Linked DNA regions of Homo sapiens: all the other regions are reported to be linked to region 4. The links are microRNA targets in miRTarBase. Many come from high-throughput screens and were not tested one by one. Region 4 holds a microRNA gene; each other region holds the end of a gene's coding sequence.

Region 1 (7,121 bases), not on the chromosome of region 4:
CAAATCAGTAAGTCTTCCCTCTCCTCAAATTCTTCAAGTAAAACACCTTTTCTGCCACCTTGAAAGCTAGTTAGCAAATGAAATATTTACAACATTAAGGACCAATTCACTCAGGTAAGTAAATAATAGTGAAGCAAATAATTTTTCGTCTGCATCTGATTGTCTCAGAAGTCTCATTTCCAAATTAAATACACAAGTCTCAGTTACTTCCTGGACACTCATGGAATATTCAGTAAATAAATTTTAGAGTAGTGATCTTGTTCAGTTGCTTTTTTTTCTTTTTTACTTATTTTTTTGGAAACAGAGTCTCGCTCTGTCACCCAGGCTGGAGTGCAGTGGCGCGATCTTGGCTCACTGCAACCTCTGCCTCCCGGGTTCAAGTGACTCTCCTGCCTCAGCCTCCTGAGTAGCTGGAATTACAGGCATCTGCCACCATGCCCGGCTAATTTTTGCATTTTTAGTAGTGACGGGGTTTCACCATGTTGGCCAGACTGGTCTCAAACTCCTGACCTCAGGCGATCCACCTGCCTCGGCCTCCCAAAGTGCTGGGATTACAGGCGGGAGCCACCGCGCCCGGCTTTCAGTTGCTTTTTCTAGTCCATTGTGTTTCATTGTCTTTGAGAAATTTCTAGGGGACCCCTGATACTTGAGCCTTAGCTCATCTTCTTTCCAAATCTGGTCCTTTCTGACAGGCTCCACAGGCCTCCCGGCTTCCAGTGTGCCTTCCAGAACTCTTCCTTAGGGCCACTGAGAACCTTGTGCAAGCAGCTTCATGAGTCCGTGGGTCAGCTCCCAAAGGTGCTCAGGATCGAGCTGCTGGTGGAAGCTCTCCTCACTAGCAAGCCCCCTGCACACCCGTCTCACTTGCCATCGGTGCCTGGCCCCCATAAACTGCAGGAGTGTGTAAATATGTGAAGGAGGCCAGGCGCGGTGGCTCACGCCTGTAATCCCAGCACTTTGGGAGGCGGAGGCAGGCAGATCACTTGCGGTCAGGAGTTCCAGACCAGCCTGGCCAACATGGTGAAACCCCCTCCCTACTAAAAATACAAAAATTAGCCAGGTGTGGTGGTGCATGCCTGCAGTCCCAGCTACTGGGAGGCTGAGGCACGAGAATTGCTTGCACCTGGGAGGCAGAAGTTGCTGTGAGCCAAGATCGTGCCACTGCACTCCAGCCCGGGCAACAGAACGAGACTCTCTCAAAAAATAAATAAAATATGTGAAGGATATCCCCTGTTCGGATTCTCTCTCTTCTTTAGTCCCCACCCCGTTTTCAGCCATGGCTCTTCTAAGACTAGGCCAGGGATCATGCTGCCCCTGATTTCCCACTGTGAACTGAACTCCATCCATCCCAGAGGCCACACAGCAACACTCACAGCTCCCACCGTCCGGGCCTGCCCAGCCTCTCACCTGAGCCCCTCCTCCTCCAGGTTCTGGATGCTCCCAGCTCCTGCCTGTCTCTTCCTCAACATCAAAAGCTGCTCAGGAAATAATTTTTTTTTTTTTTGGAGTGGGGGGACAGGGTCTTGCTCTGTCATCCAGGTTGGAGCGCGAACATGCTCATTGCAGCCTTGAAATCCTGGGCTCAAGCAATCCTTTGCACCTCAGCCTCCCGTATAGGAACTACAGGTGCGTGCCACCACGCCCAGCTAGTTTTTAAATTTTTTTGTAGAGATGGGGTCTCCCTGTGTTGCCCAGGTTGGTCTCAAAATCCCGGGCTCAAGCAATCCTCCTGCTTCAGCCTCCGAAAGTGTTGAGATTATAGGCGCAAGCCACAACGCCTGGCCCGGCAAAGAATTCTTTTTTCTTTTTTCCTCTCACTAGAGAACAAAAAGGAAATAAATCTTGATGGGGTTATTTTACATCTTAGTGTGAATGAGTCACCGAGTTCTCTGCGGAATCTGAATTTCCAGTATCCTCTCTAATTCTGGAAATAACAGTCTTTGAACTAGGTGAAAGGAAATTCTGGAAATAACAGTCTTTGAACTAGGTGAAAGGAAATTCTATCACCTGATGGAGGAGGATATTAGAGTGAAGGGGCTGTCCTAGACCCCCTGAAATCACACACTTGCCCTGCTCTGTGCTGAAACTAGTCCTGACTTCTCAAGGAATGGCCGTTTAATAAACAAACAAAACAAGGACCAGGCCAGATGGAGAAGACAGGAGAGAAGTCCCGCAAACAACGGGAAATACAGCTTAAGGGGGGATGGGGAGAGGAGCAAAGGAGACACCACAGGCCTTTCAGTCCCAGACACAGGAGGTGCCAGGATACCATCCCTCTTCCAAAGTCAAGAAGCCCAGTCCCAGCTACAACATCAACAGAGAGAGAAACGTTCCAGCTGAGGAACACCAAAGGTTCACATCCTCAAGTTACTTACCTACCCTCCTTATGAAATTAAAGAATTTTTGTCCCTTTTGGAGGGAGAAGGGGTATGAAAGAAGAAAGGTCTTTTCAAAAGTGTGAAGAAAATATTTTATTTCTTATTAAACCAGGGGACTGATGTGAAACTAGCAACAGGAATGCATGATTAAGGAAAAAAAATGGCTGGTCTGGAATCCCAGCACTTTGGGAGGCTGAGGCAGGAGGATCACTTGAGCCCAGGAGTTCAAGGCAACAGTGAGATCCAGTCTCTACAAAAAAAAATTAGAAATTAGCTGGGTGAGGTAGCACACACCTGTGATCCCAGCTACTCAGGAGGCTGAGGTGGGAGGATTGCTTGAGCCCAGGAGTTTGAGGCTGCAATGAGCTATGATGACACCACTGCACTCCAGCCTGGGCGAGAGGAGAGAGTGAGACCTTGTCTCTGAAAAGAAAAGAATAGGCCAGGAGCGGTGGCTCACGCCTGTAATCCCAGCACTTTGGGAGGCTGAGGCGGGCGGATCACAAGGTCAGGAGTTCAAGACCAGCCTGGCCAATATGGTGAAACCCTGTCTCTACTAAAAATACAAAAATTAGCCGGGTGTGGTGGCAGGCGCCTGTAGCCCCAGCTACTCAGGAGGCTGAGGCAAGAGAATCGCTTGAACCCAGGAGGCAGAGCTCGCAGTGAGCCGAGATCGCGCTACTGCACTCCAGCCTGGGCGACAGAGTGAGACTCTGTCTCAATAAATAAATAAATAAAGACAGGAGGAAGGAGGGGCCCTGCTTGAATCAGGTTGGGAAGTGGCTGGGAACAGGGCAGAGTAGCGGTTCCAGAGCCAGAAGTTGCCATCAGGTAAGCATTAAACAGCACAGCAGCAGCTCCTCACTGAGAGACCCCAAGCCAAATCTGAAGTGACCAACAGTTACCTGTGGCCAGAGGAGCACAGGAAGTCAGCGATACTGTTCTTCTCACCAACGAATGCTCCTTCCTTTCATAAAGGTTGTGCCTCAGAGACTTGTTTCCATGGAGAAGTAGCCTCACTATAAGTGGTATTGAAAGCCAAAAGTATGATTTCTGCTCCCCAAATCCACTTGGGTAAAGTGAGGCAGGCTGGCCCACATGTATGCAAGCTCCCTGAGGCACAGCTGTGGCTCTAGGGGGTCCAGCAGGGGAAATGCCAGAGGCCTGGTCAGGTCCAGCTGAGCTTTAGGGAGGCACCAGAGGCAGAGAACCACAGAGGACCTGCTGCCAAAGTGCTGACAGCCCAGGCGGCAGGGCTAGTCCTGGGAAAACACGCAGCCACATGTACAACTCTCCCTAGATACAGGGAAGCAGGACACCGGAAGAAGCCCTGGGCTGCCTTTGCGGCTGGCTGTCTTTCAAGAGGAGCTGGCCCTGACAGCAGCACTGGGCGAACAGCAGGGGAGGGATGAGAGAGTGAGCACTGCCTTCAGACATAGAGCCTCTCTCAAGCTGAGAGAGCACAAGCCTGGGGAGTCCTGCTCCCAGAGACCCCGGAGTCACAAGGCTGCTTGTAGAGCAGCAGCTCTGTTCCTGGAGCAGAGAACAGGCACTGTGAGCATGAGCATGATGGTCCTGGGCCTGTCACGAAGGAAGACAATGGGGCATGCCAACCTTGGTGGCATCAAAGCCACGTGGGCTTGCCAGAAAAGCCAATCTCAGAGCCCTCCTCCTGGGAGACACAGACCCTGAAGGCCTGGAGTGGGTCCTGGGAAGCCATGTTCTGACTTGCAATCCAGGTGATTCCGAGGCAGGTAGAATGAGGATCATGCTTGAGTCTGGGGTCAGGTGGGCACGGGATAGGTGCAGGGTTCCGGGAGGGTGATCAGCAGCTGCAGAGAAGCAGCTCATGAGGACTGAAGGTCCCTTTCTGTGGATGCCAGGGACAGAGAAAGGACATGGGAGGGAAGGAGGACTGCCTTCCGTGTGTGCTCCACTTGACCCTATGGGACCATCCATTTTTCTGAGCTGGCCTGACCTTGCCCGATGAAGGCATGACTGAGGCCATGCTTTGGAGGTCCTCTAATTGCTCAGGACACCTTGCATTTAGCTGCTTTTCTCCCACTTAGTGCAAAGCATTCTCCCTCTGAGTAGATAAAAACCTGCCAGGTGACTGGGCCCCAGTCTTGGTGTACTGACAGGTCTTAATCCTTAGCCCCTGGGTACTGGCTCTGGGCAAGCAGATTTAAATACATGCATTTTAATGCATGATAGGAGTTGCCCTTACTGGCCCTCTCTCTAGGTGTAGACACAGAAGGTTTGGGGCACTGAGTGACAGGATTATTAACATCCAAGTTATAGTTTGTGCATATAGTTCTGAGGGGGGTTAATATCTAAAAGGAATTAATACATTAACAAAAAAATAAAAACACTTCACACTCCAGAACACTGCTCATGATTTCACCTGCAGTGTGCAGGCTGCAAGGTGCAGAACACCTGGGCTCACACTGTAGCCTGGAGTACCAGGCCCCCATGCCTGCCACTCTTGTCCTGGGGCTGGAATTTGGTTGTATTGATCAATGCTGGAATTAATGGGTCAACGGGAGGGACCTGACTCAGTAATACTAGCCATATAGAGTTTGCCTTGTCTTATTCTGAGGATAAAAAAGTACATCTGTTAAACCTTATCTGTCACCAGTGCAATTCCCATGTGAGAAGTTACAGAAAGCTGCAAAGCAGCATTCCCCTCAGGGACAAAGTGGCTCAACTGGATCACAGTTTTCTTCAAAGTCCGCCTCTTGCAGGTGGCCAGGCCAGGAGTCTCCAGCCAGCTTTCACCCACCCTTCAATCAACAAATCCTGAGAGCCCACTCTGGGTCAAGTATGTGCTGACCTGGGGCGGCGGGGAACAGTGTGATCACGACAGGCAAGATTCTCCCGAACTCACTCTGGGAAATGTGATCTGAAAACCTTCCTGGTTTCATTTCTTGGATTTCTCACTGAGTAGCATTTTTCCTTCTCTAAAAACTCAGACCACAGTTTTGACACAAAGAAAGCCACAACTTCAGGGCCACACTCTGTTTCCATGTGGTGCATGAGAGAGAGAGGTTTCTCTCTCTCTTTTACAGAAGAAGTTCAATATTCCTGTGAAGGGTAAAATCACTGCATCTCTTTTTCTGGGCCAGATAATTATTAACAGTTAACAATTAAGATATAGTTTGTTGGAGCATGTAGCTCCAAAGGCCAATCATACGCAAAAGGAATGAGTATATTAGTAAAAGAGAAAATGCTGATTACTATAAAATGATAAAAAACTATTATTTTTAAAGGGCTTTTGGTCTTCACTTAAAAATGAAACTCCCCCCCCGCATTTCAGACTTCGAATGGTCACAGGTGTCTCATGCAGTGGCACTCTCTGGTGCCTCATCTCTGGGGTTGCTGTCACTCCGCTGCAGAGCCCTCAGTGGGGCTCTTACACAGAATGTGTTCCACCCACAGAACTACCCATAGCTGGTCCAGGTGCCTCGGGTGTCCAGGCTTCCCTGAAGTCATGTCATTTTGTCAGTGCGTCTGGGCACACCTAACTGAGTCCTGAGGAAATGGATCAGCTTGGTCTCTGTGAGGAATGCTGTCCCGAGAGTTGCTCCCAGACAGAAGGCCCCCACAGCAATGTGTGCCAGTCTGGCTGGCCAGCCCTGCTCACAGCAGAGGAATACCTGGGGAAAGAAACCATTGTCAGTGCCTGTTCCTCAGTCTATACCTCCTTCCTCTGGGACCAGCCAGGGAAGACAGCTGTGGTTCCAGCTTCTAAGTCAGATAAAAGGCATAACAGCCATACTGCAGGTCCATTGTTTCCCCATTGGCAACATTCTCTTGTCACATTATCAGAAGATGCTGCCCTAGAGGCCTGGGGAGGGGACAGGAGGAGGCAAAAACCTGGGAAGAGGAGGCCTAGCGGGAGAGACAGCGGGGCAGCTGCAGAAGCATGTGGCATGATGGCTCAGGGAGTCTCACCTCCGAAACAGCAGTAACCCCACCACTGAGGGCAAATGTCCCGAGCAGGACTGGCGATAGGTGCAGGCCAGCCAGGGGCCTGTGGGGGCTCCTTCGGTAGTAGCGGTGGATGAAGCAAAGGCTCTGCGTGATCCGAATGCCCATGTTAAAGCAGTTGGCCAAGATGAAGCCCACGCTGCCACACCAACGGGTCAAGAGATAGGATAACACCAGGAATGAGGAGGACAGGGCCAGCATCACAAAATTGTACCTGGGGAGGAGACAGGAAAAGGAGGGCAGTGGTGACCTTGCCCTGGACAAGGCTGCTCCCAAAACAGCGGCCATGAACATCAACTCACAGAAAGAACCTGAGCTCCTGGAATCCAGGTTTTCATAACATCGAATGCTACCTGGAGACCATGGGAATGTCCCTGTCCCCTTACCCTGAGCAGAAAGGTAAGAAACAACTCAGGAGATGTATGTTTTTTGAAGACAATAATTAGTTAGTTAAGCGATACTTTGTGATCAAAACATAAAAACCCTGTTCAGCCCAAGTCCTCAATGTGAGATACAAGAATGTGACCTGGGTAATTAGACATTGGATGCTAACTCTGTGACAGGCCCTGTGAGGAGTGCTGGGGACACACTGGAGAATGAACACACATGGGCCTTGCCCTGCAGAGCTTGGATTTATTTCACAGACAAGGGAAGCAGCACAGAGAAGTTGAGTAATTTGTCTCAAGAGTGAGGTAACACTCAGCCGGACTTCTGACCCCTAAGCTTCAGTACCTCACACCACTGCCCTTGGGA
Region 2 (7,121 bases), not on the chromosome of region 4:
ATCTGTATGTAGCATTACTGGAGAAGGACTAGAAAACCCCATGAGGTAATGCCAGATACTGTTTTATTTTTACTTTGAGGAATTCAAGGGTAAGGATTAGGACATAGTCCACAAACTGAAACAGTTCAATTTTTTTTTTTCATGACACCTGGCATCATTTTTAGCCAGTGCCCATACTGTATCCACCTCTGCTGTAAGAGAGGCAGCCAAAGCTGTGTCCATTTGAAACCATGATGTCTCTTAACCCAGTACCTTTTAGTGTCACTTTGCTCTCAGAATCTTGTGGCTTAAATGCTCAGTGAGGATCCCAGTATAAACTTTGAACAAATTCCCAATGTTTTTTAAGAAATTGCTACCATCATCGTTTTTCTAAGACCAATTTGAACTTAGGTGAAAAATCAGTATGCATTTAGAAGTGTTGACTGGAAGAATGAGTTTATAATGGAGAATACCTTAAAGTATGATACAATGAAGTTATATAGGGAATACAGGAAAGTTAGAAAGTCTGGTGACCCCTGCCAAGGGAAAAAGAGCTTTATGTCCACACACAGGCACAACACACTTCCTGTATTTCTCTCCCTTTGCCTCCCTGGTCAGTGTCCACTGGAATATTTTATTAAAAGAGTAAGTTTATTATCCTTCCATCTGTTTTGCTTTTTCATTAGTTTTAAATGATAATCTATCAAACTTAGTACCTAGAAATAATACTTTCTCATAAAAAGAAATAATACTTTCTCATAAAACCATGCTCTTTTAAAGTAATATTCTTTTCTTTTCTCAATATTCAGGATTGAATCCAACGACCTGCCTCTGTTGACTGCTATTGCCAGTACTCATTCTCCTTATGTGGCTCAAATACTCTTATAAGCTAAAGCTCAGGACAGTTCTTCCTTGGAAGAAAAAAATCAAATTCTCAACTGAAGGAGAAAGGAATAAGCTCTCTGTGATGTCAAAAGCATGAGAAGAGCAAACAGAAACAGTCATTCCACCTTTTTGTTTTGTGTTTTTGCTGTCAAGCTGATGCTTCATTGAAGACTTAGGTTTACTTGACATAATAGCATTTGTGATTGTCGTGAACACTTTAGGCCATTTGTTACCCATGAATCAACAAAGAAACTGACCTTTTTGGTAGGAGGAAACATAAGCACTAAACACTAAGCTGTTGCAACAGATTGCCTTGTGCTGTTTGGGCAGAATAAAGACAAGTGACTTGAGCGGGGTGGTCAGCAGTGTACATAATATTCCAGTAGGAAACTGCTTCCAAGTTTAAGCATGAGCTCCCCAAACTGGAGAAAACATATTTTGCTATTCTGAGACAACAATCAGAATACAGACTTTGGATTCCAGGTCACAGTTTGCTTTTTAGACAAGGTAAAGCAAAGAAAGCCACATTGTGCCATCTTCAGCTCCAGTGGCTTTAGCAGTGACTGTTTGACATAAAACATGTAAGAATTGCTTGTTGGGAAGAGTGCTTTAGGGACCCACTGTTTTCATTTCTTCTTGGAGTTTACCTTGTTTCAGATGCAGCCATGGGTAGGTCAGAGATGGATTGTTGGTGCAATAAACCCAAGAATCAATGTAGCCTCTTAATCCCATCAAGATGTAGTTTGTAGCAGCAAAGTGTACAGTCTGAAACCGTATGTTTTATCCTTATATTTTAGAGCTTTCAGCAGCCTTTTTAAGAGAGGCCACTTACCAAAGTTATTTCTATAAGCTCAAGAGTGTTTCGGTTGGTAAGTTCTTCCAGCTGAAGCCACTTTTTCCTTATAGTTAATACAAATGACTATTTTTACTTTAAAAGGCACAGCTGTCCTGGTGGGAAATGAAACCTGCAGCAGTTCAGGATGACTAATGAAAGCAATTAGCTTGAACATTTAGAAAAAATTCATATATGATCTAAATTTTTATATTATCATTTCTGTGCCTTCTAATTCCTGCATCCTTTTCAAAACATCTTTCCAGACATTAACTTACACATTGTATAAAACCGACCAAAATGATTTCCTAAAGTTCATGCAAAAAAAAAAAAAAAACAACCTAATTTTCTGTTAATATAAAAGAAACTTCAGTTTACTGACCGTGAAACAGACTATGTACTGACATCCAGGGTAAAGTAAAAGACTTTTAAATATTGGTCATTAAAGGACAGGAGCTAAGCTAGCAAAGCAAAACATCTTTAGCACTTTGCAGATCTCAAGCAGTTAACCAGGCTCTGATTCCCTTCCACTGTTTTATGAATTAATTCCAGTTCTTTTCATGTATCTTTGAACCTAAGATTATGAAGTAATTTCCCTATTAGGGACTAGAATGACTTCAGTTTTTTCATTTGATAAAAATCAGAACTGCTACCTTTCCCTTTTTTAATGATGCAAAATGTAGATGAGTGCATTAAGTTTTGTAAGATCTTTATCATTTTATGTCATTCATTGAAAATTGAAATGTTCATTCTTTTTAATGTTTTCCTATTTCCTTTTGCCTAGCATTTGACTTTGGTGTTTTAAGTTCTGTAGTTCCATGACATCATTGTTTGCTGTTGTGTTACAGAGAGAGAAGGAACCTCACCTGTGGCTCAGCTCACCCCACATCCGTTTCTCATTACGTGTAAATAAACTGTCAGAGCTGATGTTACAGCTTTTACAGTTTAAAGCATTCCCCTCGTCTCTAGTTCCTTTTTTCTTGTTTACATGTTTTGGGCACTTTCCCTCATTCACCACCTTCCAGGGTTTCATAGAAAATAACTTGTTACAAAATCAGTTCAATTCTAATGTGGACATAGTGGCATGTTCATAATTAGACCCATATAGGGGACACTGAGCTTTAAATCGTTGATTCTAAACTCTATACATTAAAAAAATTCAGCCCAGGCCCCTCAAAGCCTGAGAAAATTTAATTTGCTCTTAATTTAATGTTCCAAAACTCACTCTTGGAAAAATGCCTGTTGGAAAACTACAGGTGGGTCACATGTGGGGGCTGTCTCCGTGACACTCAGGATTCCAGTCAGAACCTAATCCTCATATCTATTGCCTACAAAAATAGACCAAGAATGTTGCTGCTCTTTTATAATCCTTTAAATATTTAACATTCAAGTTTTCTTTGTCTTAAATTCAGCCTCTTCCTAAAAGCAAAAAAGAAAAAAAAAACCTCACAGAATTGTGTTGAGATCCACCGCTCACACGCCGTACACCACCCAGTGGCTTCATTCTGGCTTAGCCGCAGAGGCAAGAAAGGGACCCCACTTGCTCCCATGCCCACCTCAAGAAAAAACATAAAACAATTTTTTTTAAAAAAGAAAAGAAATCTACCTCAGTTGACAGGATTCCACCTTTAGGGTTTCTTCAACTTTTAAGTCTTACCTGTTGAGTGTAACTTTTGTAGCATCTTGCTTTTCCAAGCAAGCTAGTGAGGCATGACAGAGCAGAAGTCTGTAAATGTCCCTGTGATGGACCTCTTTCTAGCATGTTGCAGTTTTATTTTTAATAAATTGGTAAGTGAAATGAATGTAAAGGTAATTGTGTACGTTTTAGACATGACAATGAAAATTTAAAATGTAGCTTCCATACTTGTGCATAATTCCAAAGTATTTTATTTTTTATCAATCAGTGTTAAATAGCTTTTTGTACAGGCTTCAATCCATTTTTCGAAGTGTGCTGTTTTTTAATGAAAGTAACTATAATCTTTTCACATCCCATGGAACTGCCGTTTACACATTGCAACTTTTTAAACTTAACCATATTTTTCAAAATTAACGTTTTTGGAGGGAGAAAAATCCCCGCTTGCTAAATGATACTAAACCGTTGTTTGGGCTCTTATAATTAGGTCCTGAGATTTTATAAAAATTTAGTCTGTAGCTTTTTAGGTTCTTCACTAGAGTTGGTTGTACATAAAAATAATAAAGAATATAAAGTATCCCAAAATTCTTTTAAAGTCTGGATTTTTCCGCTAATATGTACTTTAGAGAATATTTTGTTCATGCATACTTCCACGTTAAATTGAAAATGTCTTCAGCTTCTCTTGGTAAATGTGAACCATTTGTTTTTTATTGTGCTTGGGGGAGAGGGTATTTTAATATAATTTTTGCCTAAATCAAGAAGTCCCCTCTGAATGTTAATTTTTAAATGTCAAAATATGATGAACGATATATCTTGAAAGTGAGATTGCAATATGCTTAAACTTAAGTGGTATTTCAAAAACGAGAAAATTCTGGAATTTGTCATTTGAAGCTCCATAAGAGAAATTGATAGGACTTCGTTTTTGATCAGTCTGAATAGATACCAATGTCATTGTGTGGGAATTTTTTTTAACTTGTTTATGTATTATTTTGATCCATTTTTCTGTGGCATTTGGTGCAATAAAACTTTTGAATTTATCTTGAACATTTTCCTGGTGCTGCATGCGATTTGTTATATTTAATAAAATGTAGAGGTCTCATTTCTAATAATTCGTGCTGAAAACAAGCTGATTATTTATCTCAGTGGTTTTTAACCGGGGTGTTTTGGAAATGCAGGGACATTTTTGGTTAGCATAATGCCAGGTTAGGGTTACTGGCACAGAGAGGCTGGGGGCTCAGATGATAGGCGAGAGGTCCTGCACCATGTGAGACAGCCCCATGGGATGAGGACTTGTCCCACCCACCTCCTGCGTAACCCTTAAATGTCCTGCTGGACATTTATATGGCTAAAAAAGCCTGTTTATAATTAAGCAGATAATTCTGCTATACATAAAAAACACAATGTATTTTTACATGATTTTTGTATATAATGCATTCTCCAGGAATGCAATTGTTGTATAAATTGAGGGAAGATTTTTACTTTGTAAGATTTAGAATTTTAGCAAGAAGTGGTCACTTGGTCTTTACCAAGAATTGATATACTTTTGGAAAACTGCGTTTCCAATGGTAACATAGTTTGGTAGCTATGGTACCCATGGAATTTGAGTCACCAATACAGGACATCTCTGTCAGTCTTCATTTGTAGCCCCTGCATTCATGAAGACTCTGTATATAGATGCCTACTTCATTATATTTTTTGAGATGGGGTTTTGCTCTTATTGCCCAAGCTGGAGTGCAATGGTGCAATCTCGGCTCACTGCAACCTCCGCCTCCTGGGTTCAAGTGATTCTCCTGCCTCAGCCTCCCAAGTAGCTGGGGTTACAGGCATGCGCCACCACAACTGGCCAATTTTTTGTATTTTTAGTAGAAACGAGGTTTCACCATGTTAGCCAGGCTAGTCTTGAACTCCTGACCTCAGGAGATCTGCCCACCTCAGCCTCCCAAAGTGCTGGGATTACAGGCGTGAGCCACTGTGCCTGGCCAACTTCATTATATTTTCTAATCTACTGCCCCAATATTTATGTATTAAAGTAGTATTATAAATTACTTTTAAATTTCTTTTAAATTACAGTATAATAGGGCATTATATTGGTATGATATAAATTGAGTATATTTGTAAATTTTATTTTAGGTTAATAAAGGGGGCATTACAAAATATTTGCTCTGAAAAGGGATGATGTCCACAGATATATTTGTTCTCAGGAAAAAATATGCCACTGAGAGCAACTGTTGGTACCAACATAATGCCATACTGAGTTATGTTATCTTAAAGACTGGGGGGAAAGTTACAGTAGATATTTCAAAATCCTTTCTGATAAATGAAAATTTCAAGTGTTTTTCCCTGAAGCTTTTTTTTTTTCCTTTTCGTGCATGTTCAGCTCTCCAAGGATGGCTTCCCTGCTGTGTACTCGGGTGAAACAGCTTTAAAATCATGCCATTGATAAAAGGAGTTAAACGCACGTGCACACAAGAGTGCTTTTTGGTTCCCTAGTGCCTGGACCGTTCTGTCAGACGCTTTCTGTATGTTACCTCATTTAATCCTCACAATGGATGAGGGGTACTGTGATGGTTTTTTTTTTTTTTTTTAAGAGACAGGGTCTCACTTTGTCACCAGGATGGAGTACAGTGGCATGATCATAGCTCGCAGTAACCTCAAACTTCTGGCCTCAAGTATCCTCCTGCCTCAGCCTCTCAAGTACCAGGGACTACAGGCATGCACCAACACACCCAGCTAATTTTTTTAAAAAAAATTTGGGGCTGGACGCAATGGCTCACGCCTGTAATCCCAACACTTTGGGAGGCTGAGGCGGGCAGATCACGAGGTCAGGAGATCGAGACCATCCTGGCTAACACGGTGAAACCCTGCCTCTACTAAAAATACAAAACATTAGCCGGCCGTGGTGGCACGCGCCTGTAGTCCCAGCTACTCAGGAGGCTGAGGCAGGAAAATTGTTTGAACCTGGGAGGCAGAGGTTGCAGTGAGCTGAGATTGTGCCACTGCACTCCAGCCTGAGCAACAGTGAGACTCCATCTCAAAAAAAAACAAAAAAAAATTTGTAGAGACAGGGTCTCACTCTGTTGCCCAGGCTGGTCTTGAACTCTGGGCCTTACATGACCCTCCTGCCTCAGCTTCCCAAACCGTTGGGATTACAGGCATGAGCCACCAGGTCTGGCCTGTGATGGTTAATGTTATGTGTCATCTTGGCTAGGCGATAGTAATCAGATATTTAGTCAAACACTAATCTGGATGATGCTGTGCAGGTATTTTTTTTTTCCTTTTTTTTTGAGATGGAGTTTTGCTCTTGTTGCCCAGGCTGGAGTGCAATGGCACGTTCTTGGCTCACTGCAACCTCTGCCTCCCGGGTTCAGGCGATTCTCCTGCCTCAGCCTTCCTGAGTAGTTGGGATTACAGGCATGCACCACCACGCCAGCTAATTCTGTATTTTTAGTAGAGACGGGGTTTCCCCATGTTGGTCAGGCTGGTCTTGAACTCCCGACCTCAGATGATCTGCCCGCCTCAGCCTCCCAAAGTGCGGGGATTACAGGCATGAGCCACCACTCCCAGCCCAGTGCTGTGCAGGTATTTCTTAGGTGAGATTAATATTTAAGTCAGTGGACCCTGAATAAAGCTATTTATCCTCCATAATGTGGGTGGGCCTCATTCAACCTGTTGAAAGTCTTAAGAGAAAGACTGAAGATCCCCCAGGGAGAGAGAATTCTGCCTGAAAACTGCCTTCAGGCTGGAGCTGCAACATCAGTTTCTCCCAGGGTCTCCATCCTGTTGGCTCACCCT
Region 3 (7,109 bases), not on the chromosome of region 4:
GTCTGGAAAACAGTTTGGCTGTTTCTTATAAAGATAAGATTCATTTAAATGGGAGTCTCTATATCATTTGTTTCCTAAACATCACGGGTATCTATCTAAACACAGCCATTTTATAACAGATCAAATTTATAGTAAAGTGGGGAAAGACAGTAGAAATAGAATAACAGAGAATTTCAGAAATATCTGATTTTGCAAGCACCTGTTTCTGTCCTTCCCACTCCAAGATCATTCCTGCATTCCTCTAGGAACAAGGGTCCCATGGGAATATGATACAGCCAATGACTTAGGTGCCAATAGATGCTGGTGCCAAAATATTTATGGCTATGAGGCTTCAAAACTTAAAAAAAAAAAAAAGATTCCTTTTACTTGGAAAGGGGATTTAAAAAGAAAAAACCACCAACACGATTTTGAATCATCTATTTAACTTTTTTAGATTACCCATTTTGACTGGTTCGAACCAGAAGACCTGGCTTTGGGTTTACAATAAGACGATTCTGGGACCAAGTAGGTTGTAAAGGCCCAAGGTATGTTTGGGGCTTTCTCTCTCTCTCTCTCTCTCTCTCTTTTTTTTTTTTGAGACAGAGTCTCGCTCTCTCACCCAGGCTGGAATGCAGTGGCCCAATCTCGGCTCACTGCAACCTCCACGTCCCGGGTTCAAGCAATTCTCCTGTCTCAGCCTCCCAAGTCGCTGGGACCACAGGCACATGCCATCAGGACTGGCTAATTTTTGTATTTTTAGTAGAGATGGGGTTTCACCATATTGATCAGGCTGGTCTTGAACTCCTGACCTCAGGTGATCCACCCGCCTTGGCCTCCCAAAGTGCTGGGATTACAGGCGTGAGCCACTACACCTGGCCTTTTTCTCTCTTTTTTTAAATTGAGATGGGTGGGGTCTCACTATGTTGCCTAGGCTGGTCTCGAACTCCTGAGCTCAAGCGATCCTCCCGCCTTGGCCTCACAAATTGCTGGGATTACAGGTGTGAACCACCACGCTTATCCTGGGGCTTTTAATTCTTACTGAAAATCATAGTCTAAATTTCCCAAAGGGATTCAGAATCCTTTGGGGTACATTCAAGTCTTCTAGGCCATCTCTGGGATGACTCTAGAATAACTTAAAGTCAAAGAACTCCAGGGTATATCTACATCTCTCCTCAAATAATTACAAAATTCTTGCAAGATTCCTGGGCTGGACTGTTTTAAATTAAAGACTGGTCCCTTACAGGAGGGGCTATTTATGAAGTTCCTTCCCTATAGCACCAGAGTGTTTCGCACTCTTAAAATTCAATCTGTTAGTCATCTGCAGTCAAATATATAAAACCTGTGAAGAGAAAGGCTTCAATTAAAGCTTAAAAAGTTAATATATCTATGTGTATTTACAGACATGTGTCTCTACACAAATAGTTTTTCAAATATATAAACATATTAAGAATTTTATTTTATTTTATTAAGACAGGGCCTTGCCCTGTTGCCCAGGCTGGAGTGCAGTGGCACAATCATAGCTCATAGCACCCTCAAACTCCTGTGTTCAAGCGATTCTCCTGCTTCGGTTTCCTGAGTAGCTGGGACTACAGGGGCATACCACCACACCTGGCTAATTTAAAAAAAATTTTTTTGTAGAGACAAGGTCTCACTTTGCTGCCCAAGCTGTAACTGAACTCCTGGCTTCAAGTGATCCTCTGGCCTCAGCCTCCCAAAGTGCTGGGATTACAGGCATGAGCCACTGTACTTGGCCAAAAATTTTAAATAAACAACATGAGGATTCTAGCTCTCACTACAGAGTAGTTCTTCTTTTGTTTTTTTGTTTTTGTTTTTGTTTTTGTTTTTTTGAAATGGAGTTTAACTCTTGTTGCCCAGGCTGGAGTGCAATGGCGCGATCTCGGCTCAACCGCAACCTCTGCCTCAGGGGTTCAAGCGGTTCTCCTGCCTCAGCCTCCTGACTAGCTGGGATTACAGGCATGTGCCACAACGCACAGCTAATTTTTTTGTAGTTTTAATAGAGATGGGGTTTCTCCATGTTGGTCAGGCTGGTCTCAAGCTACTAACCTCAGGTAATCCGTCCTCCTTGGCCTCCCAAAGTGCTGGGAAGAGTATAGTTCTTCTTAATCCAACAAAAAAGTATTTTACTCACAACAAATATAAATTGCCCCCATCAACAAATGTATGTAATATCAAGGATAACGTGTACAAACAAAGTTGCACTAACAAAGTAAAAATTTATCCCACATACATGAAAGCACAGTGCTAAGTTCTGGGGAAGCAGACAGTTTCTGCTTTCAGGGAGCTTCCAGTCTGGTAGAGATTTACACAGAAGGCAGATTAAAGAGAATGATGATCTCCTTTGTTCAGAGATAAAAAGGAAGCAAAAAAGCAGGTCAAATCAAAGATGATCTGCAGAATACATTAACCCTACACTGAAATCATGGACCTACTCCAGTAATTAAGGCTGCAGAGGTGGGGCTGGGTGGATGAAAACATCAGAAGACAATTACAGCATGAGATATTGATTGATTGATTGATTGATTGATTGAGACAGGGTCTCACTTTGCCACCCAGGCTAGAGTACAGTGACACCAACTTGGCTCACTGCAGCCTCCACCTCCTGGAGCTCAAGTGATCTTCCCACCTCAGCCCCCTAATTAGCTGGGACTATATGTGTGTGTCACCACACCCAGCTAATTTGTGTATTTTTTGTAGAGATAGGGATTCGCCAGGTTGCCCAGGCTGGTCTCAAACTCCTGAGCTGAAGTGATCCGCCTGCCTTGGCCTCCCAAAGTGCTAGGATTACAGGTGTGAGCCACTGTGCCCAGCTGAGATTTATTTTTTCTTTATTAATCAGCAAAATAGATACCCTATTTATTTCAAGATACGATTAACTAATTTTTTTGCTAACAACCATTTCCTAAGGTAAAATGAGGCAGAAAGAAAAGGAGTATGACACTATATTCACTGAGTCTTCGATTTTCTTCTAACAGCCTGTATCAGTGGCTCTCAACTGGGGGCAATTTTGCCTCTCAGAATGGCAATGTTTGAAGACATTTTTGGCCATAACAACTAGGGGGATGGTACTTGTAGCTAGAGGGCAGAGGTCAGGGATATTGCTAAACATCCTATAAAGTACAGCATAGCATCCCAAAATAAAGATTTATCCAGTCCAAAATGTCAATGCTGAGATTAGGAAACCATGCCATGGTTGGATAAAAAAGATGAAAAAATCAGTATGTCTATAGTATAAAAGCAATTAGTAGCACTTTAAGATAGATTGAACAGGAACATTCTCTTCCTTTATCAGACAGTTGCAGACCTTCTAAAAATATCTGATAGATCTATAATGGGAAAATAAAACATGCTGAGAAGTAGCACAAATTTTTCTAAACTTCAAATATTAGCATACAAATGAAAAACAAACTTGGAAGACAGAAAGGACAAGCCAGGCATGGTGGCTCACGCCTGTAATCCTAGCACTTTGGGAGGCCGAGGTGGGTGGGTCACAAGGTCAGGAGTTTGAGACCAGCCTGGCCAACATGGTAAAACCCTGTCTCTACTAAAAATACAAAAATCAGCTGGGCGTAGTGACGTATACCTGAAATCCCAGCTACTTGGGAGGCTGAGGCAGGAGGACTGCTTGAGCCCAGGAGAGGGAGGTTGCAGTGAGCCGAGATCATGCCACTGCACTCCAGCCTGGGCAACAGAGCATGACAATGTCTCAAAAAAAAAAAAAAAAAAGAAAGGACAATTTTGTTGCTCAATTGATCTTATCAACTGTTTCTGCAACCACAAAAGCAAATGTGGTCATGTTTCTGATTTTAGTTAAGTCCAAAAATATTTATTAAAGTCTTATCACTAAAAATGGCCACAAATATTAAAAATAAAATATTAGTTTTTAGATTCACAGAAGAAAAAAATAGCCACTGACACTTGAGGAGATGCTCAATTCCGATGAGGGACATTCAAAGTTACTTTCCAACATTATCTGAAAAGTATTGATCCTTTTTTTTTTTTTTTGAGACGCAGTGTCGCTCTGTTGCCCAGGCTACAGTGCAGTGGCATGATCTTGGCTCACTGCAACTTCCACCCCCCAGATTCAAGCAATTCTCCTGCCTCAGCCTCCCGAGTAGCTGGGATTACAGGCTTGCACCACCACATCCAGCTAATTTTTGTATTTTTAGTGGAGACAGGGTTTCACCGTGTTTGACCAGGTTGGACTCCTGACCTCAAATGATCCGCCCACTTCAGCCTGCCAAAGTGCTGGGATTACAGGCATGAGCCACTGCACACAGCCCAAAGTATTTATCCTTTATTTTGTGGTTATATGTTGGGAAAGAAGAACGTGGAAAAGAAGTGAACTAACAAATTTTCAGGTATTAATATTACAATTCAGTACATTCTGACAAAAAGAATTATTTCCTATGAAATTACACCCATTGGCTGGGTGCAGTGGTTCACGGCTGCAATCCCAGCACTTTGGGAGGCCAAGGTGGGAGGATCACTTGAGGCCAGGAATTAAAGACTACCCTGGGCAACACAGCAAGACCCTGTCTCTACAAAAAAAGAAAAAGAAAAAAAAATTACACCCACTGAGAAACAGAATGTGTAACAGTAAAACAACAGAGCAGCTTCCATGTGATTTTGATAGGAAAGCTTTAATTGGTGACTAAGCTTTGTAAAAAGGATGTAAACAGGGGAAAGAATGAAAAGAATAAGATTTATCTACATAATGAAGTTTGACTTTTTACAGTAAATAAAATACCTATTTATTAATATTTCCAAATATTAATTAGATTTAATAATACTATATATTTGTTACAATGCCTTCATCAGAAAATTTAATAATTAAGAAGATACTTGAAGTTCATTCAAATGGCACTTGCAGAAATGCAACTTAATTTCTAGTTCTATCATATCTGTCTCCAAAATGGACATATATGACAGCAAAAACAAAATTCTCTATAAATCTCTCCATTAGTTACATTACTATGTAACTAAAATAGCTAGTTCTATAATAAAAGGATTTTATGTGCCAAATCCTGACCAAGAGAGAAATAAAGTCATTATTGCTGCAAATCCAAATGGAACCTAACCCAAATGTAGGGAGGGGCAAATAAAGTGAAAACATGTTGGAAGGTGGGGTCAACTGCCTTAGGACAATTCTACATCCAGCTTGACACTACTCACGACTTACTCCTCCTCACTGTTTCTTCCAAGAAAGTCTAAGCATGTGAAACTGTCCTTGTTGCTCCCTGTGGATCTCTGGCTGAGTGGCTAAAGGGCAATCCTGAGCATAGACACACTCTCCTCCCTTCTATCAGCTGTCCCCCACACATACTCACAGGGATGAGTAGACTGAACAAACATCAAAAAGACGCAGGAACAAATAAAATACCCCAATAAAGGCAATTCTTAAGTGGTCAATAAATTAGGGCACTTCTTCAAATTAAGCTCTGTCAATTAGGCACTTAATAAAAACAAAAGACATTTATACAAGCATCTAAATAACAAAGAAAGATAAAGAACAAGAGAAAGACAAGATTTATGTTAACTACCAGCATGTTATACTTCAGCCAGAAGTTTTTGAAAGAAACGTTATTTGAGAAGGAAAATAAGTAGTATTTTTCTGTTTCTTAAAAATCAATATTCTTTCTAGTTCATTAACTAAAATTAGTTTTTCAGTGTTTTCAACATAGAAAGAATGCTCAGATTTTGGTTGAACAAGGAAAAATTAAGGCAGTGTCTTTAAGACCAGTAAAGGAAAGCATTAACTATCTCATAAGCTTATCTGAGAGGGACATATTAAGCTCATATTTGGATATAATATTAGGAAATTATGGCTTTAAACATAAAATATTAATGTTTCAAAATTCCACATTTTCTCAGTTATTCTTTCTTTTTAGCTATATGTACTTCAAATAGCCCACTTAAAGAATTAAAGAAATACGTTTCACATAATTTTGGAACAATATGTGCATGGTACTTGACCCAGAACTATTAGCTTGGATGGTAAATCATTATGTTCCTATGTACCACTGACCCAGTATAAAAAGGAAGAGGACCCATAACTGTCAAAATGTGGTTGGAAATGACTAATGTCCTTTGGAATTTGCTACAAAATAGAAGATATAAAGTTTTGAGGTATTGCTGCCTTACCATGGTTTAGGGGAAAAAAATAAGAGTTTTTTGTTCCGTTTTGTTTTTTTAAAAGCAATGCTTCTTAAGTTATGAAGCTTATTTAAAATTTTCTCCTCTTAGTCATTGTCATATGGGTTATCCCTGAGCTTCATCTCATCTGCACGTCACATAAACCAGCTACCTATGGTTTTGATCATTTCATTTAGTGTTATGTCTTGTTATACCAATTCATGGAGCGTTTCACTGCTTTGGCCCAGTTTTCCAGACTCATTTCATATTCTTGACATTTCTTCTGTGGCTTGAAAACCACTTCACTTTGTCTCAGTTTCTTTAGTTCCTCCTTGTCAGTCCAAAACCCTATAGATAAAAAAATTATCCTCAAATTTTAAGGCAAATCATGAGTCCAATAAAGTTTATCCAAAAACCTATACGAGTTGCTGGTAGAAAGGTAAACAAAAACTATTTTTAAAACAATCCAAAATACTTTGTTACTTTTGAATTTTGTTAGATCGATCATTCCTGAAAATAATTATACCAGTATTTTCAAGTCTTTTGGTTTCTAACTTTCAGCTCAGTTTCTGTGTGGTGGGACACCACATCACTTCTAAAGCAGCTACCCTATGCCATCATTTAATTTCATAACTTGCTATTATTAAAACAATCCCAAGTGAAAAACAGTATATTTTCTGGCCAGGCACAGTGGTTCATGCCTGCAATCCCAGTGCTTTGGGAGACTGAGGAGGGGAGACCACTTGCTTAGGAATTCAAGGCTGCAGTGAGCTATGATTATATCACTGCACTCCAGCCTGAGTAACAGAGAAAGACCCTGTCTCTAAAAATAGAAAAACAGAAGAAAAAAAAAGAGAAAGAAATAGGATATTTTCTTTTTTATGCAATTACAATAAATGAAGACAAATTAAGATTTTTGTCTTACAGCTTAAGGTAAATGTCAACTTTCTGGAATATGCATAAAATTCAAAGTTGGA
Region 4 (7,121 bases):
CCCTACTTTAGTGGGGTGGCCACACTTCAACATACCTCTGTATTACTCATCTTCCATGCAGTGTTTCCCCAGGACCTGCCTTGACTTTTCTCTTGCTGAGCTCTGTTCTACCACACACTTGCCTCCCCAGATAGCTAATTATAAGCTTCTATTTTAGTGCCTGCTTACAACAAAAGCTGTGTCAAAAGCAGCGCATACCCATATAGAAATTTAAAAGGGTACAATTCCTGAATGGTGATGAAGCAGTACTCTGCGATGTGCTTCATCATCCAAGCGATGGTTCGGGGAAATGGAAATAGATCTGGTCAGATCGGTGCAGGCCAAGCGGGTGCCTAACATGTGTTTACCGACAACGACCTAGTACACGTTTATTAGGAACATTTTCTATTTACATAAAGAGGCAGAGACAGCTCCAGTGTTCATCAGGATCAGCTTGGGCTACTGCAGCCTTGCACATCAGTTCACAGCTTTGCAGGCCCAGAAGCGTTTTCACTAGCCCTTCTCAATCTTGAGAAATAATGCTTCTGATGTCACAGTAGTGTAGGCTATTTGAGCCCTAGGTTTACGTATAGTAGTTTTAGGTTTTGGATTTTTAGTCACAGGCCTTCTTGCTAATGCGATCGTCTCTTTTAGGCCTTTGGCATCTGAGCCAGTTCTGATTTGCTGGGATGCTATTATTGCCTCTTCTTATCCATTTCAGGAGTAAGGGGTAGAAGGGAGGAAAAAAATAGAAATAGGAACAGCATGAATGTTGATCGACATCTTGCATTTTGAAGAGGAAACTCATCATCTCCTCCAAATGGTCATCTACTCAACGCCTGGAGCTCTAAAGAAATGCCCATCCTCTTAATATAAAACAAACACAAACTATGTGTTCAGAGCTTCCATGTGCATTTGTGTTTACAGACGGAAATACCTGTGAGACTAAAAATCTTCAAGCCTTATTGCAGATCCCTGGTTTCTGTGGGATTATGTAAAACCTGTATTTCTGAAACCCCGCCTCCCGTCTTCCTTCCATCTTAAAGCAGGGTTGAACCTTTTATTAAACTGACAGCCAGGAAATGTTTTACCTGCTTGACTTGTTCTTACTATTTTATACAGGTTTCAGTCAAATGTTTCTACACCCTGCTGGGCGTGGGAGGCCGTGACTCACCAAGAGAGAGGATATTCGGTTTGCATATCCAGGGTGTTGCAGGATGATAGAGGACTTCACAATTCAGGCTTGGTGCCATTTTGTCCCTTCCCTCGTTCTCTCTTGGATATTTACTTGGCTACTTGCTCCCATGGAGAACCAGTCAGCTGAGTATTCAAATATTAAATTAATTCCTCTTTCTACACAAGTGGCCAAGCAAGTTTTTACTAGAAACGTAGACTGGTGCCTGAGGAAGACTGGGGGTAGGGAGAAGAGAGGATGAGTTTATTTATTTAGTTATTTTTAATTTTTTTTTTTTAATAGAAATGGGGTCTTGCTGTGTTGCTCAGGCTGCTTTCAAACTCCTGGCTTCGAGGAATCCTTCTGCCTTGGTCTCCCAAAGTGTTGGGATTACAGGGATGAGCCACCATGCCCAGCTAGAGACTGAGTTTAAAGGGCAAAGGAAACTGTGGAAAGTAGTTTCTCTAAATATAAGTTTTGTGATGCTTTTCCATTGTCCAAGATCTTTGTGCCTTTGTGTATGAATAGGCCAAGAAAATGTTTTAGAATAACTTTGAATTAATCAATTTGTGTCAAGAAACCTCCTTTTTCCTGCTGCAGCAGGGTCTGCTTGGCCTATGAAAGCTCAAGGAGGGGTCTTTTATGACTCAGAGATATTTCCTTAATTTAAAAAAAAAGTTGGGAGGCCGAGGCAGGCAGATCATGAGGTCAAGAGATCGACTGATACCATCCTGGCCAATATGGTGAAACCCCGTCTCTACGAAAAAGACAAGAATTAGCTGGGTGTGGTGGTGGGCGCCTGTAGTCCCAGCTACTTGGGAGGCTGAGGCAGAAGAATCACTTGAACCTGGGAGGCAGAGGTTGCAGTGAGCTGAGATTGCGCCACTGCACTCCAGCCTGGCGACAGAGCGAGACTCCATCTCAAAAAAAAAAAAAAAAAAAAAAAAAAAGAGGGACAGAGGCCTTTGACTCCTGGCCACTCTTGTGAATCACATTTTGCACACAACACCTCCTCTCTTCATCCTTTTTCAGACTAAGGACTTGCCCAGAACTCTGGTGGTTACAGACCAAGCACTATGGTTGGAGGAGCTAGCCCAACAGAGGCAGCTGCGATCAGGGGAAGGGTGGAAGCCGCACACCAGAGCACCCTTGCTGCTCCAGGGCTGTCAACGATCTTCTCATACTCAGAGACTCGCTCGCCCCTGTGTCCTTTCATTCCTTCCTGCAGGCACTTCTGGAGCGGGTAGCGTGGTGAGATTTCTCACACAAAATTTGCTACAAAGCTACAGTAGACCACGTAGTGTGGTAGTAACATAAGAACAGACGTATAGATCAATGGAATAAAATAGAGAGCCGGGAAACAAACCCTTGTCTTCAATAGTGCTGGGAAAACTGGATATCCACTTACAAAAGAATGAAGCTGGACCCTTACCTTATACCATGTGCAAAAATTAACTCAAGATAGATCAAGGACCTAAACTAAATCTTCATAATCTTTGATTTGGCAAGATTTCTTGGATGTGACACTAAAAGCACAGGTAGCCAAAGAAAAAAATAGACAAATTTGGCTTCATCAAAATAAAAAACTTCAGTGTATCAAAGGTCACTGTGAAGGGAATGAAAAGATGGCCTACAGAATGGGAGAAAATACCTGCAAATCACACATCTGATAAGGGACTACTATCCAGAATATGTTAAAAGCCCCTACAACTCAACAACAACAAACCAAACAACCTAATGTTAAAATAGGCAAAGTAATTCAATAGACAGTTCTCCAAAGAAGATACACAGATGGCCAATAGGCACAGGAAAAGATGTTTAAAATCATTAATCATTAGGGAAATACAAATCAAAATCACAATGAGATACCACTTCACATCTATGAGGATGGCTGGTAATAAAAACAAAAACAGAAAACAACAAATGTCGGTGAGGATGTGGCTAACTTGGGACACTCGCATATTGCTGGAGGGAGTGTAAAATGGTGCGGCCACTGTGGAAAACAGCCTGATTGTTCCTTGGTGGTAATACAGAATTTCCATATGATCCAGCATATTCCACTCCTAGGTATATACTCAAAGTAATAGAAAATAGGAACTCAAACAGATGCGTGTACAACAACCTTCATAGCAGCACCGTTCATAATAGCCAAAAGGTAGAAACAACAGAACCGTCCACCAGCAGATGAACAGATAAACAAAATGTGGCAAATGCATGCAATGGAGAAGGATTCAGCCACAAAAAGGAGTGGGATTCTGATACCTGCTATGACACGGATGAGCACCAAAGACATTATGCTAAGTGAAATAACCCAGACACAAAAGGAAAAATATTGTGTGATTCTACTTCTTTGAGTGACCTAGAATAGGCAAATTCACAGAGACAGAAAGTAGAATAGAGGTTTGGCAGGAGCTGGGGGAAGGGGAAATGCGGAGTGATTGCTCAACAGGTACAGAGTTTCTGTTTGGGATGATGAAAAGTTACATACAGCATTGTAAATGTCCTTATTGCCACTGAATTGTACACTTAAAATGGTTAAAGTGGTAAATTTTATATTATGTATATTTCACCATAGTAAAAAAAAGTTTTAAATACACATTCCAGGGCCCCACCCTTAGAAAGCCTCAGAGGCGGCCGGGCGAGGTGGCTCACGCCTGTAATCCCGGCACTTTGGGAGGCCGAGGCAGGTGGATCACCTGAGGTCAGGAGTTCAAGACCAGCCTGGCCAACATGGTGAAACCCCTTCTCTACAGAGATACAAAAATTAGCCTGGCATGATGGTGGGTGCCTGTAATCCCAGCTACTCTGGAGGCTGAGGCAGAAGAATCACCTGAACCTGGGTGGCAGAGGTTGCAGTGAGCCGAGATAGTGCCATTGCGCTCCAGCCCGAGTGACAGAGCAAAACTCCGTCTCAAGAAATCCTCAGAAGGTGATACAGTAAATATGGATGGGGTGGGAATCTGGAATCTGTATTATTATTATTATTATTTTTAATGCCTTCCTATCTTTCTCAGGCATAGTCAGGTTTGGAAACTTATGATTTAGTCTCTGCCAGTTCTTTCCAAGGGGCTGGTGCGTCTGTAAGGAAGTGTTCACCAGTCTACGTGAAATACATGTGTATTTCTCATGCATCTGAGTGTATTAAATTTGAAGTCCTGTTTTAAAATCTGAGATTGTCATGATTACATTGTTTTGGGGTTAAAGTGTCCAATCATCTCCCACCATAAAATGATGGTGACAATAATTCAGGTTGTTTTTTAAGTGTCTGTGCTTGGCAAAATAGAAGTGAGCAGTCCTATGTTAGTCTCTCAAAAGGTTTTCAAAATTTTAATGGTTTGTTAAATTCCAAAGATTGGGAACCATTCCTCCAGACACCATCCCTTTGAAAATACTGAAATAGAAACTGCTTCTGCTGTTTATTTTATTTGTGCCAGAAAGAAAAAAAAAATGGAAAGGACCTATACATTTTTCTGTGGTTCATAGGACCTGGAGCAACAAAGGGCAGCATTGAAACTGACAGCATTGACATGTAATTTGTCCTGCTGCCTGTTGGAACGTTCTTTTTCAGATGCTGGAGGAGCATGACAGAGGAGAGGTGGAGGTAGGCGAGAGTAATATAATTTCTCCAGGAGAACATCTGAGAGGGGAAGTTGCTTTCCTGCCCTGGCCCTTTCACCCTCCTGAGTTTGGGGGCTGTGGTGGGGCAGGGATTGACCAACAGCCATTCCTAGGGGATGGATGCCTTTGCATTCCAGAGGGCAGCTGGCTGAAGGGAGTGCTGAGTCTGTGGGAGCCATAGCCCGCCCCACCCTTTAGGCAGATTAGTTAATTATTGAAAAGTGCCTCAGAAGCACAAAGGTCTGGAGAGACTCCATGAGCTATTGCTCAGGCCCGTGTGGGAGCTGGCATTTCTGAGGAGACACTGAGACTCTTCTAGGAGGCTGTGGAACAAGAAATAGTTCCTTCCCATTGTGGTGCAGTCCTTTCAGGTTTGGTGTAGAGAGACAGTTCCAGAGAATTCTTATACAGTGCATATAACTTCTCAAGAGAGAAGTTAAATTTATTTGTCTTAGGATTTGTGAAGTATTTAGATAAATGAACCACATCAGATATTTTCCGTTGTTTTAATTTTTTGTGTGTGTGGTTTTAATGTTTTAAGGACATTCAGGTCTTTTTTTTTTTTTTTTTTTAAACGGAGTCTTCCTCTGTCACCCAGGCTGGAGTGCAGTGGCACAATCTCAGCTCACTGCAACCTCTGCCTTCTGGATTCAAGCAATTCTCCTGCTTCAGCTTTCAGCTTCCCGAGTAGCTGGGACTACAGGTGCGCGCCACCACGCTGAGCTAATTTTTGTGTTTTTAGTAGAGACGCGGTTTCACCATGTTGGCCAGGATGGACTTGATCTCGTTATCTGCTCACCTCGGCCTCCCAAAGTGCTGGGATTACAGGTGTAAGCCACCACACCCGGCCCATTCAGGTCATTTATGCATAAACGATCACATGACATGTTCTGTTCTCTGACTTACTTTTTTCTTTTACTTAACAACATTCCCTGTAGCTCTTTCTGTGTTAGTGCATATAGGCATCCCCCATTTTAACTGTTGCATTCCTTCTAGATGTATCATAGTTTCTTTACCCACTATTTTAGCAAAGGATCACATAGGTGGTTTTCCATTTTTCACCATTACAAACAATGCTGCAACAAATGTTCTTATACACAAATGGGTGTGTGTATGTATGAGTGTTTCTGAAGGATATTATTTCTAGAAGTGGAATTTCTGGATCAAAGGGCATGCACATTTAAAATTTTTGTAAATAATATTGAGTTTCTCCCCCAAAATTCTGTTCTGATTTTTATAGCCACCATTATACTCATCAGCGTTGGACATAATCATTTTGTTAAAACTGCCAGCGTCATGTGCAGAAAAAACAGTGTCATTTTAAATTGCATTTCCTGGATTTACCAGTTAGATTGTTCATTTTATCATATGCCTATTGACCATTTCAATTTTTGGAACTTTTAGAAATAAAAATACAGAAAAGGTGTATAGGCTGGTTGCAGTGGCCTACTGACCATTTCAATTTTTGGAACTTTTAAAAATAAAAATAGAGAAAAGGTGTATAGGCTGGTTGCAGTGGCCTACTGACCATTTCAATTTTGGGAACTTTTAAAAATAAAAATACAGAAAAGGTGTATAGGCCGGGTGCAGTGGCTCACGCCTGTAGTCCCAGCACTTTGGGAGGCCAAGGCGGGTGGATTGCCTGAGGTCAGGAGTTTGAGAACAGTCTGGCCAACAGGGCGAAACCCTGTCTCTACTGAAAATACAAAAATTAGCTGGGCATGGTGGCAGGTGCCTGTAATCCCGACTGCTCGGGAAGCAGAGGCAGGAGAAACGCTGGAACCCGGGAGGCGGAGGTTGCAGTGAGCTGAGATCTCGCCACTGCACTCCAGTCTCGGCGACAGAGCGAGACTCCATCTCAAAAAAAAAAAAAAAAAAAGAAAAGAAAAAGGAAAGGTGTATACATTAAAGGTGTACTGATCAATGCATTAAGACAAAGTGAACTCTTCCTTGTAATCATGTCCCAAGTCAATAAATAAAATATTATAAGACCTTCTCCCCAAAAGAAGACTCTCCCCTGAAAAAGATCGACCTCCTCCAAAGTAATTCCTACCCCAACATCTAAGTGCTGTAGATTAGTCGTTCCTGTTTCCTACTGTCATATGAACAGACTCATACAAACATGCACTCTTCTGCGTCTAGCTTCCTTCATTCGCATTACGTTTATGAGTCTTTCACGTACTCGTGTGTAGCTGTAGTATGCTCATTTACATTGCTTATTGTATTGCATTATGTGAATATATCACAATTTATTGATTGATGGACATCTGGGTTACATCTGTTGCCAACTTTCAGTTATTAATGAATAATGTTGCTAAGAGCATTATCGTGCATGCTCTTTAGTATAGCT

Evidence for each region. Region 4 holds the annotated microRNA hsa-miR-6076 (AGCAUGACAGAGGAGAGGUGG, at 4,732-4,752, shown strand). A microRNA usually pairs through its seed, bases 2 to 8, with sites in the 3' UTR of a target mRNA and lowers its output. Matches are read on the target gene's strand: a 7mer-m8 pairs with bases 2 to 8, a 7mer-A1 pairs with bases 2 to 7 and ends in A, and an 8mer does both.
Region 1: the mRNA of RFT1 is a reported target of hsa-miR-6076. Seed matches in the 3' UTR shown: 7mer-A1 at 5,410-5,416, 7mer-A1 at 4,583-4,589, 7mer-m8 at 4,371-4,377 and 7mer-A1 at 2,519-2,525.
Region 2: miRTarBase lists FNIP2 as a target of hsa-miR-6076. Seed matches in the 3' UTR shown: 7mer-A1 at 2,012-2,018 and 7mer-A1 at 3,968-3,974.
Region 3: miRTarBase lists GK5 as a target of hsa-miR-6076. Seed matches in the 3' UTR shown: 7mer-m8 at 3,691-3,697.

Annotation. Positions count from the first base shown.
Region 1 is chr3:53,086,037-53,093,157 of GRCh38, forward strand. RFT1 (RFT1 glycolipid translocator homolog) reads right to left here. Exons shown (of 13, transcript NM_052859.4): 12 at 6,333-6,582; 13 at 2,447-6,034. The coding sequence ends at 5,867. Among named protein-coding and RNA genes, the nearest start is that of RFT1, 41 kb to the right of the region's middle.
Region 2 is chr4:158,903,678-158,910,798 of GRCh38, forward strand. FNIP2 (folliculin interacting protein 2) reads left to right here. Exons shown (of 17, transcript NM_020840.3): 17 at 789-4,373. The coding sequence ends at 867. The region is part of intron 4 of SPMIP2 (sperm microtubule inner protein 2); the gene reads right to left. It also overlaps the pseudogene LOC124900178. Among named protein-coding and RNA genes, the nearest start is that of SPMIP2, 130 kb to the right of the region's middle.
Region 3 is chr3:142,159,291-142,166,399 of GRCh38, forward strand. GK5 (glycerol kinase 5) reads right to left here. Exons shown (of 16, transcript NM_001039547.3): 16 at 1-6,480. The coding sequence ends at 6,332. Among named protein-coding and RNA genes, the nearest start is that of TFDP2, 13 kb to the left of the region's middle. RefSeq lists an enhancer at 4,999-5,734.
Region 4 is chr14:49,961,668-49,968,788 of GRCh38, forward strand. It overlaps MIR6076 (microRNA 6076), which reads left to right and starts at 4,732; the gene lies at 4,732-4,844. LOC100506446 (a long non-coding RNA gene) reads right to left here and starts at 1,365. Exons shown (of 6, transcript XR_007064156.1): 1 at 36-1,365. RefSeq lists enhancers at 21-160, 211-300 and a silencer at 3,529-3,598.